5 separate regions of the Homo sapiens genome follow, and regions 2, 3, 4 and 5 are each reported to be linked to region 1. The links are microRNA targets in miRTarBase. Many come from high-throughput screens and were not tested one by one. Region 1 holds a microRNA gene; each other region holds the end of a gene's coding sequence.
Evidence for each region. Region 1 holds the annotated microRNA hsa-miR-6829-3p (UGCCUCCUCCGUGGCCUCAG, at 2,516-2,535, opposite strand). A microRNA usually pairs through its seed, bases 2 to 8, with sites in the 3' UTR of a target mRNA and lowers its output. Matches are read on the target gene's strand: a 7mer-m8 pairs with bases 2 to 8, a 7mer-A1 pairs with bases 2 to 7 and ends in A, and an 8mer does both.

Region 1 (4,000 bases):
ACTCGAGATCGCTAAGGTTCATTATCCTCCTTGGTGAAATGAGAACAATAACCCGCCCACTTCATCGTGCTGTTTAAAGGCAACTATATTCATACCTTACCATGCAAACCAGGATGCCTGAATACAAAAGAGGCTGCTCTAAATTACTCCAGGACAACGGGCATAATTTAAGACCTCTGCTCGCCCTGGGTGTAAAGCCAGCTGCTCGTTAAGATGACCATGCGTCCTGGATCATAAGGGTTGCCCACAGCCACCGCTTGGGAAAGCAGAACTGGAACAACCCTTCCCGCCTCAAAGCAGGCAGATCACAGACCTCTGGGTGCCTCTGGCACCAGAGAACCACAATGGTCTCAGCAGAGGATAAGCCCACACAGGGGCCAGGGCAGGGCCAAGTACCACCCCTAGTGCACAGGTAAGCAGCCCTGGCCCATCTACAAGGCCTGCTGTGGCCTGGGCCTGTCTACCACTAGCTCTCCCTAGAACATGCTTACCAACGAGTCTTTCCCTGGCGAACTTCCCTGATGTTTTAGGAAACCTTTGAATACCTCCCCACAGAAATGCCCCTTGGAGAGGACACAGCATCTATCCCTGTAACACCCCCCCAGCAATGCCCCTTGAAGAGGACACAGCATATATCCCTGTATCACCTAACTCAGCAGTGACCCTCGGAGAGGACACAGCATCTATCCCTGTAACACCCCCCCCCCCAGCAATGCCCCTTGGAGAGGACACAGCATCTAACCCTGTAACACCCGCCCCCCAGCAATGCCCCTCGGAGAGGACACAGCATCTATCCCTGTAACACCCCCCCAGCAATGCCCCTTGAAGAGGACACAGCATATATCCCTGTATCACCTAACTCAGCAATGACCCTCGGAGAGGACACAGCATCTATCCCTGTAACACCCCCCCAGCAATGCCCCTTGGAGAGGACACAGCATCTATCCCTGTAACACCCCCCCCAGCAATGCCCCTTGGAGAGGACACAGCATCTATCCCTGTAACACCCCCCCCAGCAATGCCCCTTGGAGAGGACACAGCATCTAACCCTGTAACACCCGCCCCCCAGCAATGCCCCTTGGAGAGGACACAGCATCTATCCCTGTAACACCCCCCCAGCAATGCCCCTTGGAGAGGACACAGCGTCTATCCCTGTAACACCCGCCCCCAGCGATGCCCCTTGGAGAGGACACAGTGTCTATCCCTCTAACACCACCCGCCAGCAATGCCCCTTGAAGAGGACACAGGATCTGTCCCTCTAACACCCCCCCAGCAGTGCCCCTTGGAGAGGACACAGCATCTATCCCTGTAACACCCCCCCAGCAGTGCCCCTTGGAGAGGACACAGCATCTATCCCTGTAACACCCCCCCAGCAATGCCCCTTGGAGAGGACACAGCGTCTATCCCTGTAACACCCGCCCCCAGCGATGCCCCTTGGAGAGGACACAGTGTCTATCCCTCTAACACCACCCGCCAGCAATGCCCCTTGAAGAGGACACAGGATCTGTCCCTCTAACACCCCCCCAGCAGTGCCCCTTGGAGAGGACACAGCATCTATCCCTGTAACACCCCCCCAGCAGTGCCCCTTGGAGAGGACACAGCATCTATCCCTGTAACACCCGCCCCCAGCGATGCCCCTTGGAGAGGACACAGGATCTGTCCCTCTAACACCCCCCCCAGCAACGCCCCTTGGAGAGGACACGGCATCTATCCCTGTAACACCCCCCCCAGCAATGCCCCTTGAAGAGGACACAGCATCTATCCCTGTAACACCCCCCCAGCGATGCCCCTTGAAGAGGACACAGCATCTATCCTTGTAACACCCCCCCCCCAGCAACGCCCTTTGGAGAGGACACAGCATTTATCCCTATAACACCCCCCCGCCAGCAATGCCCCTTGGAGAGGACACAGGATCTATCCCTGAAACACGACCCCCAACAATGCCCCTTGGAGAGGACACAGCATCTATCCCCGTATCACCCCACCCAGCAAAGCCCCTTGGAGAGTCCCACAGCATGTATCCCTGTGATTTCCAGCACCCAGACCCTGGCACGTGGGCCCTCAAGAATTCCTAGATGGATGGTGAGCGAATGGGTGCAAAGGAGGGCACCCCAGGCTTAGAACAGACAAGGGCAGGCCCAAGCAAAACCAGGGGCTGTGGTGGGTCCAGAAAGCCCCAGAAGCTTTGAGGCCTGGGTCTGCAGGGACTCTGTGAGCTGGCAGCACCTGCCCCTCACCAGGCGAAGGGCACCTTGCGATGTTCCTGCATGACGTAATGGTCGTCATTCTGAGGTAGTGCTCGCATCAGCCCAAAGTCCCCGATCTTGACCAGGTCGCGGGTAGCCAACAGCAGATTGCGGGCAGCCAGGTCACGGTGAATAAAGCGCTTGGACTCCAGGTAGCCCATGCCCTCAGCCACCTGCACAGCGTAGCGGCTCAGAGTCCCCAGGAGGAAGTGGCCCTGGTGCTTACGTAGCCGGTCCAACAACGATCCCAGAGGTGCCAGCTCTGTCACCTGAGGCCACGGAGGAGGCAGGAGGAATGAGCTGGAGGACCCTGCCCCTTCTCAGCAGCCCACGCTGGGCCCCCAGTCCCCTTCCTGAAGGCTTTCCAGAGCCAGGCTGCACGCACCTTCCTGGCCTGCTGTCTGGGGACCTCTAGGAGTCCTGCAGTTTCTCAGGCCTCTCCCTCGAGGCAATTTGGGAAACTGATGCCTAGAGAGAAGGAGCCCAAAGAGGCAGTGGCTAGAAATTCCAAAACTCAGCTGGACGTGGTGGCTCACGCCTGTAATCCCAGCACTTTGGGAGGCCGAGGTGGGTGGATCATTTGAGGTCAGGAGTTTGAGACCAGCCTGGCCAACATGGTGAAACCCCGTCTCTACTAAAAATACAAAAATTAGCCAGGCATGGTAGCGCACGGCTGTAATCCCAGCTACTTGGAAGCCTGAGGCAGGAATATCGCGTGAACCCAGGAGGCCGAGGTTGCAGTGAGCCTAGATCATGCCATTGCACTCCAGCCTGGGCGACAAAGTGAGACTCCATCTCAAAATAAATAGATAAATAAAACATAAATTCCCCAAATTAAACTCAGTGGCCAGCCCCTCCCATGGGAGTAACTCTCTTGACACTGAGCACCAGCAAAATCCAGAGACAGACCCGGACTGGACCGCAGCAGACACAGCCCGTACCAGGCTGGGCCCCTGTGGACCCCTTTACTCCATCAGGTTGGGGGACCAAAGTAGGATCTAGGGCGCCTCTGACCTTAGGATGGAGAGAGGAACCGAACCACACATATGGGACCGGAGCCCTCTCCCTGCCCGCCCCCTCCCGCCCGCAGTACTCACCATCTTCATGGGCGGCGTGAGCACCACCCCGTAGAGGCGGATGAGGTTTCGGTGGTCGAGCGAGTGCATGGCATTGACCTCCCGGATGAAGTCGTCCATGGCTTCTGGCTGGCTCAGGACATCGGGCTTCAGGCACTTCACAGCCACACTCACCTGCCCAGAGCGGGATTTGCAAGGACTCAGGACTTGCCAGGTCCCAGACACGCGGAGCCAACCTGCTCCACCCTCCAACTCGGCTCAACGATCCCTGCCTGTGAGCTCCTCATCTGGGTGGGTAAGCATGTCACCAGTGCCTGGGCTTACGTGCTCTGCGTGAGGCCTGGCTGGAGAAGGGCAGACGGCTGGCCCTCAGGAGCCATCGTCGGCCACACCTCCCCTTCCTGGGGGAATGCCGGGCTTAAATACCAACCAAAAAGTAAGAGATAACCAGTATGATGAGAGAATATTCAAATGTTATAAAATGGAATTTTTTTTTTTGAGACAGTCTCGCTCTTGTCGCCCAGGCTGGAATGCAGTGACGTGATCTCAGCTCACTGCAACCTCTGCCTCCCGGGTTCAAGTGATTCTCCTGCCTCAGCCTCCTGAGTAGCTGGGATTACAGGCAGGTGCCACCACGCCTGGCTAATTTTGTATTTTTAGTAGAGATGGGGTTTCTCC
Region 2 (4,145 bases), not on the chromosome of region 1:
GAAGGCTGAGGCAGGAGAATCGCTTGAACCCGGGAGGCAGAGGTTGCGGTGAGCCGAGATCGTGCCATTGCACTCCAGCCCTCCAGCCTGGGCAACAAGAGCAAAACTCCATCTCAAAAAAAAAAAGAAAAGAAAAAAGAAACCCACTTTCAGTTGGCAGCGTGGTTGAAAAGATGGCTGGCAGAACTTGATAGAAAAACTTGGCGGGGAGAGTGTAGGACAGGCTACTCTGCAATTTCTTTAGAATAGTGTTCCCTAAAGTGTGTTTTGTGGAATATTGGTATAACTTGAATAGATATTACTTGAAAAAAAGGGAGGTGGAGCAAATCTCGGAACAATTGAAACAAAGTTCAACAGGTTTCTTTCCTGTAGGACTTTTTAGAGCCTTTAGTATAATAATGTGCATGATGAAACTCTACTAACAAAACAGAATATGCAGTTAATCTTAGGCTAATTTGGGCATGGATTTTTTTTTTTTTTTTTGGTAGCATATCTTTCAACAGTGTGTTCCTTAGAAACCACTGTCTTAAAGGACTGTTGTCTTCCCAGCTCTGGAGGTGAGGTTCCAATCATCGTGCAGTTCTTAAGATTTTCTTCCTCTACCTAGAGAGGCGGGGTTTCTGTAGGGTTTGCAGAACTCTCTCCAGGTGTGAGGAGGGGGAGAGATGTTGGGCTCCCTGAGGGCAGTGATGCAGGGAACTCCACCAGAGCTGGTCAGAGCCCACTTCGCCTGTGTAACCAACCACTGGCTTCCCTATCTTCCACCTGGCCATGGGGTGATCTGCCAGTACGTGCAAACTCTCCAGCATTCCTGAACATGAACAAGGCACTCCCTTCCTGCTTCTAAACAGATGCCCCAGACCTCTCAGCAAGTGTGGCTAAAGAAGGTACCCTCTCGTCTGGAGCTGACAAGAAGGCCTGCCTCTCACTTCTGTGTGGAGATCAGCTGCCTGAGTTTCTTCTTGCCTGGGGGATTATGGTGCTGATCCCTGGGATTCAAGGCCGGGAATGGAGACAGGAAAGCAAAAGCCTTTGAGGGAGGTGGAGTATGGTGGACAAGAGGGACCAGATTCATAGCTTCCGCTGCGGTCGGGGAAGCTGTCAGGAGAGGGCAGTGCAGAGCTTCCTTGCCTTCTCTCCCTAGCTCTGCCTTACAACCGGCCGCACACAAGGTGAGTGTGCTGAAATTGGCTCTTCCTCCCCAGACAGGGCAGCTGAGCTCACGCAGGACGCACATCTACCTTGTCCCCTTCCCTGGGTAGTCAGGTGTATACTGAGGCCTCCAAATTTTGTCTGGCCTCTGGTCCCATGAAAAGAGCAAAGGATTGCCACAGCAACCACAGAAAGAGAATTGTGCACCAGGGTTACGGTAGGTAATAAGATTTACTGAAAACGTCTCGGCCACATTCAGTACTGGTTTGGTGGATACATCAGAAGGAGGTTGCATAACATTAGGCAGGTGGAGGGGCTGAGAGGAAGAGATGTGGGCACCTGTGTGCCAGTGTGTCCGTGCTGGGGGACGCCTGTCCAGGTGGTGAGTGGAACGGTGTGTGTGTGTGTCTGTGTGCGCGTGTTAACAAGAAAAACGAACCAGAAAAGGAAATGCATTTTATCCCACTGCACATTGCAAAAGTCTCACGCCAAAAAAGCTAGACTTTCCTCTATGTATGGCATCAAAAGGGAGTAAAAAATGATTGGATCACCCAGATTATAAATAAGGTTATTTGTTTCTCAAAAATCCTTATTAAAACATTAAATATCAGCTCTTTTGGGGGAGAAATACATTCATTTCAGGGAGACCTCGGAAGAGTGACCATCCTTTTGCTCTACCCCAACCAGGTGGGGGAGGGGAAGCCCCAGAGGGCCCAAGGGGTCCCCTCCAGTTGAGCCAGGTAGCCACTCACATCCTGCCACTGAAGGAGGTGGCCAATGCACAATTTACAAATGAAACTGCACGTCCATTAAATTAAACCCAATGGAAAACACACGTGTGACCTGTCCTGTCATTCACAGCCATGGGGTGAGAGGGAACCGGAGGAGAGGGTGCCAACCAAGGGGGTCTGGAAGGTGGGTGGGAGGGTATGTGTTAGGGTGGACAGTGGAGAGCCTCCTCCTCCTTCCAGGAGCCCCAGTTCCTCCAGGGCTGTGGATAGCAGGGTTAGAACAGCTGGGTGGGGTGTGTGGGATGGGCATCCCCGCAGGCTCTTGGGTGCCATTCTCTGGGCCCTCCCCCACATTTAGGATATTGATGGGAAGAGGGATGTAGCACCTTCTCCAACCCCTGGCTTCCCACTGGACTAGATGCTTTCCAATGTTTCTTCTGCCTTCCCTGAAGGACAGAATGAAGAAAGGAAGCTGGAGGCTGATGGAGCCAGGCTGGGAGCAAAGGGATGGCCGTGGCGACCTGCGGGCTGGAAAGATTCCCAGATAACCTGGTTTCACCTTCTCTGAAGGTCTATGGAGGGCGTGGAGCACTGAAGGTGGGAACATCTAGGGTAAAAAACCATTGTCCTGTTGTTAAAGGAGCTAAGTTCTGTGATCACCTAGGGACAGCTGTGGCCTCAAAGTCACCTCCATATGGTTCCTAGCCCAGGGTCTGCCATCTCCTTGGCTCTTGGAGTCAACCCAGAAGGGACTCCTCTTAACCTCCCACAGGTTGAGCCCACCAGCTTACAGTTGGTTTCCAGGAGAGAGTGAAGGGCACTGTGGCTCCCATCCCTTTCTCCCATGTCCATGGTTGCTGTGCGCAGAGACAGGGCCTTGGAGGGATGAGCTGGAGCCTGGTGGATTCCATCCCATTCTGATCTGCAAGATGTGATGCCTCAGGCCCTCCCACTCCTCTGGCCACTGGTTATGCTTTGGGGCTCCCTCCTGCCCTTGAATGTCTGTCAAAGGAGCTGAGAAACTTCTGGGGATGAAACTCAGTCCCCCTTTGTCTCTCCCCTTCCTTCTAAGTCTGCCCCCGGGCAAAGGCCTACTCTGCGAACAGCACCAATCTGCCTCAGTGCAGGGCTTGTAAACAACTCAAGTCCTTCCGTGGGTGGGGGCCATGGGTGCCATCTATCCTCAGGGATTTGGTGAGTCCAGATCTCACTCCTGTCTTTCCACACAGGCTGCTCGACTGGCCCCGCCAAACAGAGTCCTCGGCAGTTCCAGGGAAGTGGGGCTGGGGTCCTCATTGAAGCTCGGTGGTTGGGAAGGAACAGGTGTCTCCTTTGCCTTTCTTCAAGCTACTGATTTGGGGAAGCTAGGGCCCAACTCCCTCGGTGCTTCCTGCCCATGTCCCCTTCCCCCCCACCCTGAAGGCCTCCCGGCGACACTCCTCTCCTGCTCAGTGATCAGTGCCATCTGGGCTGCCCGACTACTCCAGGGAGTCACTGTGTTCCAAGCCCAGGTCGCTGACATTTGTCGTCTGCAGCTCGTCGACCTCCTCCTCCAGCTCCTCCTCCTCCTCCTCTTCCATCTCATCCTCATCCTCTTCTTCTGTCCCATCCAATGAGTCATCGTGTGCAGCCATCATAGCCTGCTGCATGGCCATGGTGGCACTGTCTGAGGACAGGGACTGCAGGTTGTCCAAGTTGATGGAACCTGCGAGAGAAAGCAAGGGTCAGGACGAGGCAGGGGCTGCTGGTCAGGGCCAGCACCTCTGTGTTGGACAGGGTTTAATGGACTGGCTCATAGAGCAGTGAACTCCTTGTTTTTAGAGCTGTCCAAGCCTGAGCTGGACAATGCCCTGGTATGAAGTCTCCCATCCATTCACTAGTCAGCTACTCCCTGCCCCATCTCAGGAAGCAGCACTCCCAGCCACCGTTCACTGCACATTTTCTTTATGTGTTGGCCACTTTTGACTTTCTAACAATTCTGTAAGGCAGGTATTATTATCCCCATTCTGTCTCAGACAGTTAAGTCATTAGCTCAAGATGACATTGTCAGCGATGACAGAGTTGGAATTTTCTCCCAGGCTGGTCCAGCCCCCTAAATCTGTTTTTTTTTTTCCCATCATAACCCATAAGATGGCTCATCACAAAGGAACCTGTGCACAACCATACACATACACGTGTGCATGAGGTTATGTGTGCACACACGCACACCTACGCTCCACTCCCCATACAGAGCTATCTTCATATGCCAAGCTATAAAATGCT
Region 3 (4,145 bases), not on the chromosome of region 1:
GGTTAAGACTGATATTTTATTGCATTGTAGTTTTCTGTATCTTCTAATCTAAAAATAAACCTATATAATTTGTACAATCAGAAAACACATTAAATGTTCAATATATATAAAATAAAATTTAAAATGCCATTAAGATAGTAAAGTCATACTTGTGCATAAATTTTGGTTTTAACAACAGTGAGTTATAACTTGGTCCCTATTTTAAAATAGGGTTTTGCAGGGCGCGGTGGCTCATGCCTGTAATCCCAGCACTTTGGGAGGCCGAGGCGGGCGGATCATGAGGTCAGGAATTCGAAACCAGCCTGGCCAACATGGCGAAACCCCATCTCTACAAAAAATACAAAAATTAGCCAGGTGTGGTGGTGGGTGCCTGTAGTGCCAGCTACTCAGGAGGCTGAGGCAGGAAAATCGCTTGAACCTGAGAGGCAGAGGTTGCAGTGAGCCAAGATCACTCCACTGCACTCCAGCCCGGGCAACAGAGAGAGACTCTGTCTCAAAAAAAAAAAAAAAGCGTTTTAAAAAATGTAATTCAAAAGTAACAAAATATATCTTACCAACTTTATTCATTCAAAAATGCATATAGTAGTACTTCATGAAATGCCATCCTCATTTTAATTCAGATTTACACCACTGAAAATAGCTTTTAGCTTTATTTAGCAATTTTATGAAGAAAAAGTTCATTCACAGAGCTGTGTAAACTCAAACATAGGTTACAGAGCAAAAATTTCAGGATTGCTCTGGGATCCATATATATGTTTCCAAAATTTAAAGCAGTGTCATTCTGTCTAGCATAGTTTACTTCTATCTCAATCTGCTTCTCTTGAAAACAAGCCACAATTTTGGCTGGGTAATTCAGACATATCCTGAGATTTGTTCTTTAAAAGCTGCCACAAAAACTGAAAGCATAATTCATACTCATTAAAAGCTGTGGATCCCTTCTGAAAGTGTGAAATGGATTAAGTTGATGAAAATATGTTTCGTATTTTTTTCATTCATTTAAAAATTCCCTATTTTTGAAACGTGATCAGGCTCTTCTTCACTAAAATATGTGATTCCATGGAACTCTGGGCAGCTCAGTACTGGAAGCTCAATACAGATTCCAGTTACCATCTACTCATTCCCCAGGTCCTGTAGAACTCTGAATACCTGTTCTCCCATCAACAAAAGTTTCTTGTGCAATCACAAGTTCACTGTGTTTGGTTGTCGTGTCATACTGGTAGAAAAACTGTTCCTCTGTGAACCACTAAGAGTTACATTTCTTAGACTGGGGAAACAGCTTGAAAAATCTCTTTGAATTTTCATGACTTAGAATTGAACATTTCACTACATAAAAATCAACCAAATCGATGTGTCCATCAATGGAGGATTGGATAAAGAAAACGTAGTTAATGTAGTGAGTGATAAAGAAAATGCAGTTTATAAACTCCAACTTGACTTTAATAAATTAAATTCCAAGCTGTCACACAGCAATGGACATCATTATCATCGCCCAACACACACACACACAGTGGAATACTACTCAGCCATAAAAAAGAATGAAATCATGTGTTTTCCAGCAACATGGGTGGAACTGGAGGCCATTATCCTCGGTGAAATAACTCAGAAACAAAGTCAAATATGGCATATTCTCATTTATAAGTGGGAGCTAAATAATGGGTATACATGGACATATAGAGTGGAATAAAAGACATCGGAGACTATGAAAGGTGAGAAGGTGGGAGGAGGGTGAGGGTTGAAAAACTACCTATTGGGTATGATGTTCACTATTTGGGCGATGCGCACACTAAAAAAAGCCCAGACTTCACCTCTATGCATGCAATATATGCATGTAAGAAACCTGCACTTGTCCCCCCAAATATATAAAACTAAATTATCTAATTGAAAAAAAAAATCTATACCCTCCATTCTTCCCGGATATCTCATATTTGGTGAGTAGTGTGGACAGGAGCATGGGGAATAGTAACAATTTCCACATGCTATCTACCCAAAGGCATGTGCCCTAAACACCCTGAGATATAGGTAGTCATAGAATGTCAAGGCTGGAAGTGACCTGAATGTTTATCCAGGTCACCCTTATTTTAGATATGAGGAAACTGAGGTCCCCAAAGGAGAAGTTGCCTGCTCAAGATCACTTGGTTTGTCTGTGGCAGACTCAGTTTTCTTGCTTCCTGGTCCTGCATTCTGCCCAATATCCTGTAGCAGCTTACCTGGTTCAAGTCCTGTATAAGATCTCAAGCACGGGAACCAGGGACACAGTTTGCTAGGATCTATCAATCCCTGAAATTTGCCCACATTTCAGAATGAGAGAGCTTTTATTATGTTGAAACACTTCTAAGACTTCCCCCTCCCAGTTTCTTCTGAGGCAACAGTTAACACTCAGCACTTCATTTACTTCTCATCCACAACCAAATGATAGCCATGATGATTGAAGTTCCCATTTTACAGATGAGAAAACTGAGGCACTTAGAGGTTACATAACTTGCCCAAGGTCACACAAGTAATTAGAAGAGCTGGGACTCAAACCCAGGCAGGCAGTCTAGTTACAGGGTCCAAGCTTTGATCTCCATTACATCCTAGAAGGAGCAGCCTGTTCCAGAAAGGGGAATGAAGACTAACCTGTACTAGTTGATTGAGTTTTTTGCTACAATTTCATACTCCAGAGCCTCCTGTCTCTTCCATCCTTTCTCTGCACACCCCTTCTTCCCTGCAGGAACTTCTTAGCAGATCCACAATGTGTGTCATCTACCCAACCTCATTATCCGGGCCCCTGTCTCATCCTCCCACACCATCCATGTCACAGCCTGGCTGCCTACTGCCTTTCAAAGGATAACCAGTTGTCCAGTTTATAAACTCCAATTTGACTTTAATAAATTAAATTCCAAGCCATCACACAGCAATGGACATCATCATCGTCTCCCAACACACAGAGGTGCAGCCTTGCGTGGCTCCATCATCACAGTCTTTAAATAAAGCCCCTAAAGCCATCTCTCTGGGGAAGGCTTCCCACCAGGCTCCCGGCTCCCTCCTTCCCACAGAGCCACTGCTCACAGAGAAGGCATCAAGTACAAAAAACGGTAATAAAGGGGGAGGGAGGGATGAGGAGCAGGAGGGGAGGCAGGAAGGTGGGGAGTACCTGCCCCCCATCCCGGGCCGGCCCTGCTCTCTGTGAGCTGCCAACATTCTCAGAGGCAGACACTGGTGCTGGTCTGAGTGGGGACCTGAGGGAGGTGTGGGAGCCCCATCCCAAAGGGAATTACCCACCCTCCTGGGACAGAAAAGAAGGGTCACCTGGGAGAGATGCCCTCTATCATCTGTTCACGGAGGGTCCTAAGCCACACATATAAATAGAAAAGAGAATAAATAAGGGAAGAAGGGTCAGCTGAAGAGCTGAGCACCCTGGGACTCCGCTCAGGGACCAGGCTCAGCAGGAGGCAAATGCTTCTGGGGAATACCCACACATGCCGGACAGGGCCCTCCTCTCCCTCCCAGCCACCAGTCCCTCGTCCATGTCCTCGGCACCGGGTGCCCACCTCTCATGTGCTTCCCGTTCCAAGTATCCTTCCAACCGGCCCCATGGCCCAGGGTGGACGGGGCTTCCCGGAACCCAGAGGGCTTTCCTGGCCCAGGCACTGGAGATCCAGGAAGGGGTATGGAAGGGGAGGTGGGGAATGGGCTGAGAGAACTCGTGCCCTTTCAGAGCTGGGTCCTCAGAGCTGGGGGCTGGGGTTACCATTGGCCTTGGGTTTGGATTTGAAGGAAAAGCGCTTGATAAGGCGGCGAGAAAAGCTGCCGGCCTTCTTTCGGACACTGGGCGTGGCCGTTGCGTTGGAGAGGTCATCGTGTGATTGGCTCAGGCCAGCTTCCTTCTGCCTAGGCCTCCGGCGGAAGATGAGCTTAGTGCCGCTGCGCAGGAAACTCACTGCAGGGGAAGAGGGGAAGCTGAGGCAGAGAGGGGCACGGGGTGGGGTGAGACGGGGGCAGAGACACGATGGAGAATGGAGGGAAAGAGGATGTGGACAGGATCAGTCCCGTGGCCCAGAAGCCAGGCTTCCTCAGGAAAGAAAGCAGAAACATACTTCTCCATAAGGCTTCGTGAAAAAAAGAAAAAAGAAAACGAAAGCAGAAACAAACATGTGCTTTATCCT
Region 4 (4,145 bases), not on the chromosome of region 1:
ATTCTTCAGGACTCTTGGAGAAAGCACCTGGGGTGAAGCGACTAAGCTCACTGGATGACAAGATCCCCCACAAGTCACCATGCCCAAGACGTACCATCTGGCTGTCTCGAAGCCAGTCAGATATCTTTTCCCGTAAGCCCCCACGTACAGTGAGTGTCTTGGACCCATACTACCGGCCACGAGATGGTGCTGCCCGCACCCCCAAAGTCAACCCTTTTAGTGCTCGCCAGGACCTCATGGGGGGCAAGATCAAGTTTTTTGACCTGCCCAGCAAGTCTGTCATCTCTCTGGTATTTGACCTGGATGCACCAGGGCCCGGAACTATGCCCCTGGCTGACTGGCAGGAGCCCCTGGCCCCACCTATTCGCCGGTGGCGTTCCTTGCCTGGTTCGCCTGAGTTCTTGCATCAAGAGGCTTGTCCATTTGTGGGCCGGGAAGAATCGCTATCTGATGGGCCCCCACCACGCCTAAGTAGTCTCAAGTACAGAGTTAAAGAGATCCCACCATTCCGGGCATCTGCCCTACCAGCTGCTCAAGCCCATGAGGCTATGGACTGCTCCATTCTCCAGGAAGAAAATGGTTTTGGGTCCAGGCCCCAGGGGACCAGTCCATGCCCTGCGGGTGCTTCTGAGGAGATGGAGGTAGAAGAAAGGCCAGCAGGCTCAACTCCAGCCACCTTCTCCACCTCAGGCATAGGCCTGCAAACCCAGGGAAAGCAGGATGGGTGAGGGGGTTTAGTCCCTGCCTCACCTTGGGGATGGACCTTCAGCTGAAACCATATGGCCCCCTAGGTGCACAGCCTTGATTCTTCCCTGGAGCCTACAGAGCAGGCAGGCTAGGCCAAGCCAGGCTCAACTTCTGGGCTCCCAGTGCCCATTGGCTGTGTATGACGGGAGGCAGCAGTGAGAGGCCTTCCTAGTTAGGGCCAACAGCTGATACCAAGCCTCTGAAATCCAGCAAGGAGGTCTGCCTCCCACCAGACCCTCTCCAGTGTACTTCCCCAGATAGGACCAGAGGATGTCTAGTTCTAGGCTGAGCTGGCAGGCAGCTATTACCCCGGTTCTTTCCCCACCCCAGGTCTGTCTCTTGCCTTTTCTTGGGGCATATAAGCTACTGAGTGGAACATGGAGCTGATCAAGAGGCCGTAATGGTCATGGCTGTTTCCCAGACCTGAATATTGGGGTGCTTCTTGCCAGTATTCTAAGACATTTGAGTAATTGCTGTTTGCACTTACTGCATGGTCAGACCACGTCACTACATTTCTATGCAAGGGGACAGCAAGGCAGCGTGGTGGTCATGGCTCTTAGCTAACCTATTCAAAGACCTTTTCCTGTTGATTAATCTATTTTCATATTTATAAAGGAGTCTTAATGTTCTGCCCCATAAGACTTTCAACCTTGTGGTTGGGAGTGGGGCTGGTTTTGTAGGCCCTAGGGCCTGCTTCTATGTATTTATCAACATGTGATACATTCAATTGGTTAAATGGTTTATACAGGGACTGATTTGCTTCCCTTCCTGCCATGGCTGGAGCTTTGGGAACAGTCTGTCCTTACAGAGCTGCAATAAGAAATAACCAAAGATGAAGCTGGTCAAATATTTTCATAACTTGCTTCTGTTGATTTTTTTTTTTGTAAAACTTTCCCAAGACATTTTCAGACTTAAAAATAAAGTCAGTGTTACAGGTGCTGGTCAGCCTTCTTACTTGTACCTCAAACACTGGGATAAAGGAGGCGGTCCAGGGCAATGCAGTGATGTCTGTCAAGACATTCCCCCTCCCCTAAACTCAGTAGCAGTTGAGGATGACATTTCAGGCTAGAGAGACCCAAAATACCTCTGTTCCACCTGAGAGCAAGGTGGAAGTTGCATCAGCTACTGCCCCAAGTGAGCTTCATCTTCTGATTGTGGGCTTTGGAGGAACGAGAGAACTGGCTCTTGGCCACTGTGAGGGGTACAGCTTTGCCACTCAAATATACCTTATTGTGGCATTCAGGGAGCCAGGGTCCAGAGCTGCAGGGCTGCGGTCCCTGGCTCACTTCCACATAGGCCATCACATAACCTGTCATAAAGGCATCAAAACCAGCCCGGTGCAATCCATCCCCAGGCACTGGGTTAGGACTGGCTTGGCTCCCTGGCACTTCTGAGGTAGCTCTATCAGCTATTTCAGGCCTTGCTGCCTTAATCCCCATCTCTAAGTCATTTTTGTTGCCTTGCTTGGAGTGAGGCAGGTTCCTAGTTTCATCGGCAGCCACCTCCTGCTCGGTTTCTTCAGGCTTGATGCTATCCCCACAGACCTGCTTCTTGGGAGGACCATCCTTAGCTTCCCCAGAGGTCTGTGTCCCCGGTAGGTTCAATAAAGCCCTCTTCCGTTTTTCCCTACGTCGTCGCCGTCGCCGCTTGTCCTCTGCCGCAGCCTCATCAGTGTCAATGATAAGGTCAATATCGTGAGACTGAGGACACTGTGGTCCCAGGGGGCACCAGCCATAAGCCTAGGGGTGGGAAAGAGGCTTAGAAAGAGGCTCCAGGCATCAGAACCTTCCCTCCCAAGAAACAGGTGGGTGCTCTCACCGAGAAGTTGTCACAGATGCTGGTGGGATGAGGACGGTGGGTTGCTGGGGGCAGGCAGCAGCGGTAATCAATATGGTCCCTCATGCTGGAAGGATAGTTGCAGAACTCCAGGGTAAGGTGTGGGCTGCCAGCTGCCCGCTGCTTCCCATTTTCCCGTTCACTGCAACAGCGCAAGAGGGTAATGGTCCACTAGCATATAAGCTCCATAAGAGCAGGGTTTTGTGGTCTGTTTTGTTCACTGCTGAATCCTCAGCACCTAAAACACTGCCTGGGCACATGGTAGGAGCTCAATAAATATCTTAAGTGAATGAAATAAACTCGTATCAGGCCCCACCCCTTTCCCTCAACCATTTCCTCACCATTTCCGGAAGGCATATTCTAAGTAGGAGGCCACGAAACGGGCATGAAACTCAGCAGCATATTTGGTGTCATAAATGCCTGCTGGGAACATCTCACACAGGTCAGCGGTGAAGGTTCCCAGACTCTCAGGGAGGTGTGCATAGAAGTTCTGGTACAGGAACACCAAGTCTATAAGGCCATTGTGTAGCACCAGGGGCCGGCGGGCTCGGATTAGCTCCAGGAATAGGGTCCGTACTGACTGGCTCTGGCTCTCATCACCCTAGATGAAAGTAAAGGGGTCAATGAGGAGGACAGAGTCCCCCAGGGAGCCTCTTCTGCTGGGCACTTATCCCAGACTTCCCCACTTGGAACGCTCTCTCTCTACCTTACCCAATGCTGCCCACCCTCCTCATACCAGTCTTGTTTCCCAAGCCCTGTCACTAGTGATTCCCCATACTCCCTAAGAAGCAGATTCTCCCCAGACATCCAGCCTAGGGTAGGAAGAAATAAAGTCACAGAAAGGGCAGACTCAAGGCTAGGGAGGCTAGAGGCCTACCTTGTCATTGCCCTTATGGTAGGGGATGCCTTGGGCATACTGCTGGTTGAAGTTGAAGCCATGCTGTATCAGGAACTGCACAGACTTTGGTTCTATGACATACTCCTCCATGCACAGCAGAGTGAGATTGAACACTTGAGCCAGATAGGAATGTTCACCCTGGGAGAAAGAGAAGTCTGCTATATCAAGATTTCAGAGAGCCAAGCTAGGAGGATGCAAAAGCTTAAGAATGATACAATGGACTCTGGGGACTCAGGGGGGAAAGGATGGAGGCAGGTGAGGGATAAAAGACTACGCATTGGGCACAGTGTACACTGGGTGATAGGTGCACCAAAATCTCAGAAATTGCCACTAAAGAACTTACTCATTTAACCAAACACCACCTGTTCCCCATAAACCTATTCAAATAAAAAAAAAAAAACTATCAAGTCAAAAAAAAAGATTTGGGAGAGAAATGCTTCCTATCTGATGTTCCCTAGAATCTCTCTACCCTCCACCCCACAGCCACACCTAGGATTGGGGTGAGATCAGCTCATACCTTGTCTGGCTGCCGCTTGAAGCAGGCGAGGCCCAGGGAAAGGATAGAACGGGTCCTGGCAGCATGACACACGGCCTTGTAACGTTCCTCAATGCACCTTGGGGTTGGGTATGGGGGTTGCTGTGGCTAGGAGTTAGCCTTATGAAG
Region 5 (4,145 bases), not on the chromosome of region 1:
ACCTGAGAACTCACACCGAGGAGAGGCCCTACGAGTGTAACCACTGCGGGAAGGGCTTCAGGCACAGCTCATCCCTGGCCCAGCACCAGCGGAAGCACGCGGGGGAGAAGCCCTTTGAGTGCCGCCAGAGGCTGATCTTTGAGCAGACGCCAGCTCTCACAAAGCATGAATGGACAGAAGCCCTGGGCTGTGACCCACCTTTGAGTCAAGATGAGAGGACTCACCGAAGCGACAGACCCTTCAAATGTAATCAGTGTGGGAAGTGTTTCATTCAGAGCTCTCACCTCATCCGGCACCAGATAACTCACACCAGAGAGGAGCAGCCCCATGGGCGAAGCCGGCGGCGTGAACAATCCTCGAGCAGGAACTCACACCTGGTTCAGCATCAACACCCGAACTCCAGAAAGAGCTCTGCAGGCGGAGCAAAGGCAGGGCAGCCGGAAAGCAGAGCCCTGGCTTTGTTTGACATCCAAAAAATCATGCAAGAGAAAAACCCTGTGCACGTTATTGGGGTGGAAGAGCCTTCTGTGGGTGCTTCCATGTTATTTGACATCAGAGAATCCACATAGGAGAGAAACTTTGCTGATGACTTTTAACCACAAGTAAAAAATGTGGTAAGTCCACATAGTGTACTCATGGAAGGAGGGGCTGGGGGTAGAAATGTCATGGGTGACTTCTGACTTTCTAAGGAAATGATGCTTCCCAAGCACCCGAGGTTGGTTGGTCCCAAATCTATCAAACTCAGTGCCCTCTTTAGCGACATATTTTGTGACATTCCTTCCATTACACCACAGTGAGTTCACAGGTAATATAACCTACCCACCTGTGTAATGTCAAAAAAAATCAATATGCGGCCCCATTTTGTAAAGGATCATTAAAATGAAAGTAATTTATGGTAGAGTAAATTGTAGAGTAACGTGTACTGACTTGGTGCAGTATTTCTCCTTGTCACTGTGGGCCCAATTTTGCCAGGAGACCTAGGGCAATAGCCTGTTGCTTGTGGACTGGTAGAGGGTATGATGTTGACCATGGCAATACTGTGAGGGGCCTTCCCATGTGGAACGTGACCTTCCAAAGTAGTGACTAACTCTTGGAAAAGTTTTTAACAACATAATATGCTATTGCATTTCTGGGAAATTCTGGGTAAATTCCAAGCATGCAGCAATTAGTTTGTGCTTATGTGTGAAGTCCAGTTAGGTTCTCAGTTCATACCCTGAAAACTGCTTATTCCACATCTGTTGATGTGGTCCACTGGGGGCAGTTCTGTTCCTCACCATCTTGGCAGCATGCATGGCTCCTGCCCACATTTCAACCACACCCCCAACCCAATTACGTGACCAGCCCCCACGAAATTTCACAGCATTCCGTGCAGGGGAGTGTCACAGCTCCTCTTGAAAAACATCTGGTGTTGCTATGAGCCAGAAGTTCTTTTTTTTGTTTTTTGTCTGAGATGGAGTCTCGCTCCGTCACCCAGGCTGGAGTGCAATGGCGCAGTCTGCTCACCACAACCTCCGCCTCCCAGGTTAAAGCAATTCTCCTGCCTTAGTCCCCCGAGTAGCTGGGATTACACGCACCTGCCACCACGCCCAGCTAATTTTTGTATTTTTGGTAGAAATGGGGTGTTGGCCAGGCTGATCTCAAACTCCTGACCTCGTGATCCACCCACCTCGGCCTCCCAAAGTGCTGGGTTTACAGGCATGAGCCACTATGCCCAGCTGAGCCAGAGGTTCTTAACTGGTGGTGCTTTTGCCTCCAGGGCACATTTGGTGACATCTAGGGACATTTTTGGTTGCTGTGCCTGGAGGAAGGGTGCCGCCGTCATGTAGTGGGTAGAGGCCAGGGACGCTGCTCAACATCCTTTAGTGCCCGGGACAGCTCCTCAACAAAGGATTCTCTAGCTCAAATGTCAATAGTGCCAAGGTGGAGAAGCCACCTGGGTATAAACCCAGCCCAGAAATGTAGCTGACATTTTTAAAACTTGCAGCCAGCTGTGGTGGCTCACGCTTGTGATCCCAGCACTGTGGGAGGCTGAGGAGGGCGGATCCTTTGAGGTCAGGAGTTTGAGACTAGCCTGGGCCCATGGCGAAACCCCATCTCTACTAAAAATACACAAATTAGCCAAGTGTGGTGACATGCGCCTGTAATTCTAGCTACCTGGGGGAGGCTGAGGCACGAGAATCGCTTGAACCTGGGAGGCAGAGGTTTCAGTGAACCGAGATTGCACCACTGCACTCCAGCCTGGGTGACAGAGCAAGACTCTGTCTCAGAAAAAAAAAAGAAAAGAAAAAAAACCTTCAAATTGATTAATCAGGGCTGGACTAGACTAGAAATCATATAAGCTTGATTTTAACAGATGGCATCATTAGCTAGTTTATACATGATGTACTTTTTAGTACATCCTTTACGGTTTTGCAGCATTCATAATTGATGTGAAATAAGGAAGATAATCCTTTTTTTTTTTTTGAGACAGAGTCTCACTCTTTTGCCCAGGCTGGAGTCAGTGTTGTAATCACTGCTCACTTGGCAGCCTCGACCTCCTGGGCTCAAGTGATCCTCCCACCCCAGCCTCCCAAGTAGCTGGGACCACAGGCATGTGCCACCATTCCTGATTTTTTTTATTTTTTGCAGAGACAGGGTCTCACTGTGTTGCCTAGGCTGGTCTCGAACCTTGGCGTCCCAAAGTGTTGAGATTATAGGCATGAGCCACTGTGCCCAGCCACTTATTTTTCTGAGTAACCTTTAAGGATGTATTGTGGACATTTTCAAACATGAGTCATATATTTTTGCTGGTACTCCCATCTACCTCCCCACCATTCTCCTTCCCTGGATATATATATAACCATGTTTGTCCACTGGGACAAAACCATTTTCACAATCATACTAAGCTGTCATTTCACATTTTTGCTGTGCACTGATAGTGTGAAAGCAATGGCAGGTAAAACTGCTGAGCCTGAGTTCAAAGCAGGGCAGTAGCCCTGAGGTTGGTTGTTCATATTCTTCTCCACTGGGAAATGCAGTAAAGAAAAAGAAAAGCTAATTTCACTTAATTTCTTTTCTTTTCTTTTTTTTTTTTTTCTTTTGAGACGGAGTCTCGCTCTGTCGCCCAGGCTGGAGTGCAATGGCGTGATCTCGGCTCACTGCAACCTCCACCTCCACGGTTCACGCCATTCTCCTGCCTCAGCCTCCCGAGTAGCTGGGACTACAGGTGTGCGCCATCTTGCCCAGCTACTTTTTTGTATTTTTAGTAGAGATGGGGTTTCACCATGTTAGACAGGATGGTGTCGATCTTCTGACCTCATAATCCGCCCACCTCGGCCTCCCAAAGTGCTGGGATTACAGGCATGAGCCACTGCGCCTGGCCCTCTTTTTCTTTTTGAGATGGAGTATTGCTCTGTCGCCCAGGCTGGAGTGCAGTGGCACAATCTTGGCTCACTGCAACCTCCGCCTCCCGGGTTCAAGCAGTTCTCATGCTTCAGCCCTCTAAGTAGCTGGGATGACAGGTGTGCGCTACCACACCCGGCTAATTTTTGTATTTTTAGTAGAGATGGGGTTTTACCATGTTGGCCAGGCTGGTCTCAAACTCATGACCTCAAGTAATCTGCCCGCCTCAGTCTCCCAAAATGCTGGCATTACAGGCATGAGCCACCGTGCCTGGCCTACTTTCACTGAATTTCTGTGATGAAACGGGAAAAATTAATTTTGTTAAATCTCAAGTAGAACTATATTGTCATTATCACATCTAAACAGATATCATCAAATACCTAGTGTTCAGATGTTCTGGGTTGCCTCATAAATTTTGTTTTCTATTTGTTTCATAGTAATCATAATCTAAACAAGATCCACACAGTGCATTTGGTTGGAATTTTTCTTTTTTCTTTTTCTTTTTTTTTTTTGTGATGGAGACTTGCTCTGTCACGTGGTTCACTGCAACCTCCCAGGTTCAAGCAATTCTCCTGCCTCAGCCGCCCCTGTAGCTGGGACTGCAGGCATGCACCACCACACTCAGCAGATTTCTTAATTGTTTGTAGAGATGGGGTTTTACTACATTGCCTAGGCCAGTTTCAAACTGGGCTCAAGCGATCCTCCCACCTTGGCCATCCAAAGTGCTAGGATTACAGGTGTGAGCCAATGCACCCTGCCAAACA

Region 2: miRTarBase lists PKNOX2 as a target of hsa-miR-6829-3p. Seed matches in the 3' UTR shown: 7mer-m8 at 2,106-2,112.
Region 3: miRTarBase lists C2CD2L as a target of hsa-miR-6829-3p. Seed matches in the 3' UTR shown: 7mer-m8 at 2,662-2,668.
Region 4: miRTarBase lists TESK2 as a target of hsa-miR-6829-3p. Seed matches in the 3' UTR shown: 7mer-A1 at 893-899.
Region 5: miRTarBase lists ZNF8 as a target of hsa-miR-6829-3p. Seed matches in the 3' UTR shown: 7mer-A1 at 2,192-2,198.

The regions. Positions count from the first base shown.
Region 1 is chr3:195,879,814-195,883,813 of GRCh38, forward strand. MIR6829 (microRNA 6829) reads right to left here and starts at 2,582; the gene lies at 2,516-2,582. It overlaps TNK2 (tyrosine kinase non receptor 2), which reads right to left. Exons shown (of 16, transcript NM_001382273.1): 5 at 3,344-3,496; 6 at 2,238-2,515. RefSeq lists an enhancer at 3,473-3,973.
Region 2 is chr11:125,430,609-125,434,753 of GRCh38, reverse strand. PKNOX2 (PBX/knotted 1 homeobox 2) reads right to left here. Exons shown (of 13, transcript NM_001382323.2): 13 at 1,365-3,588. The coding sequence ends at 3,362. Among named protein-coding and RNA genes, the nearest start is that of FEZ1, 64 kb to the left of the region's middle. RefSeq lists a silencer at 987-1,281.
Region 3 is chr11:119,115,819-119,119,963 of GRCh38, reverse strand. It overlaps C2CD2L (C2CD2 like), which reads right to left. Exons shown (of 14, transcript NM_001290474.2): 14 at 1,420-3,919. The coding sequence ends at 3,708. Among named protein-coding and RNA genes, the nearest start is that of HINFP, 3.7 kb to the left of the region's middle.
Region 4 is chr1:45,341,423-45,345,567 of GRCh38, reverse strand. It overlaps TESK2 (testis associated actin remodelling kinase 2), which reads left to right. Exons shown (of 11, transcript NM_007170.3): 11 at 10-1,685. The coding sequence ends at 728. It overlaps TOE1 (target of EGR1, exonuclease), which reads right to left. Exons shown (of 8, transcript NM_025077.4): 4 at 3,999-4,095; 5 at 3,461-3,619; 6 at 2,925-3,184; 7 at 2,566-2,725; 8 at 1,595-2,486. The coding sequence ends at 1,866. Among named protein-coding and RNA genes, the nearest start is that of TOE1, 3.3 kb to the right of the region's middle. RefSeq lists an enhancer at 4,073-4,145.
Region 5 is chr19:58,294,968-58,299,112 of GRCh38, forward strand. It overlaps ZNF8 (zinc finger protein 8), which reads left to right. Exons shown (of 4, transcript NM_021089.3): 4 at 1-4,145. The coding sequence ends at 569. It overlaps ZNF8-ERVK3-1 (ZNF8-ERVK3-1 readthrough (NMD candidate)), which reads left to right. Exons shown (of 7, transcript NR_144447.1): 4 at 1-614. Among named protein-coding and RNA genes, the nearest start is that of ERVK3-1, 8.3 kb to the right of the region's middle.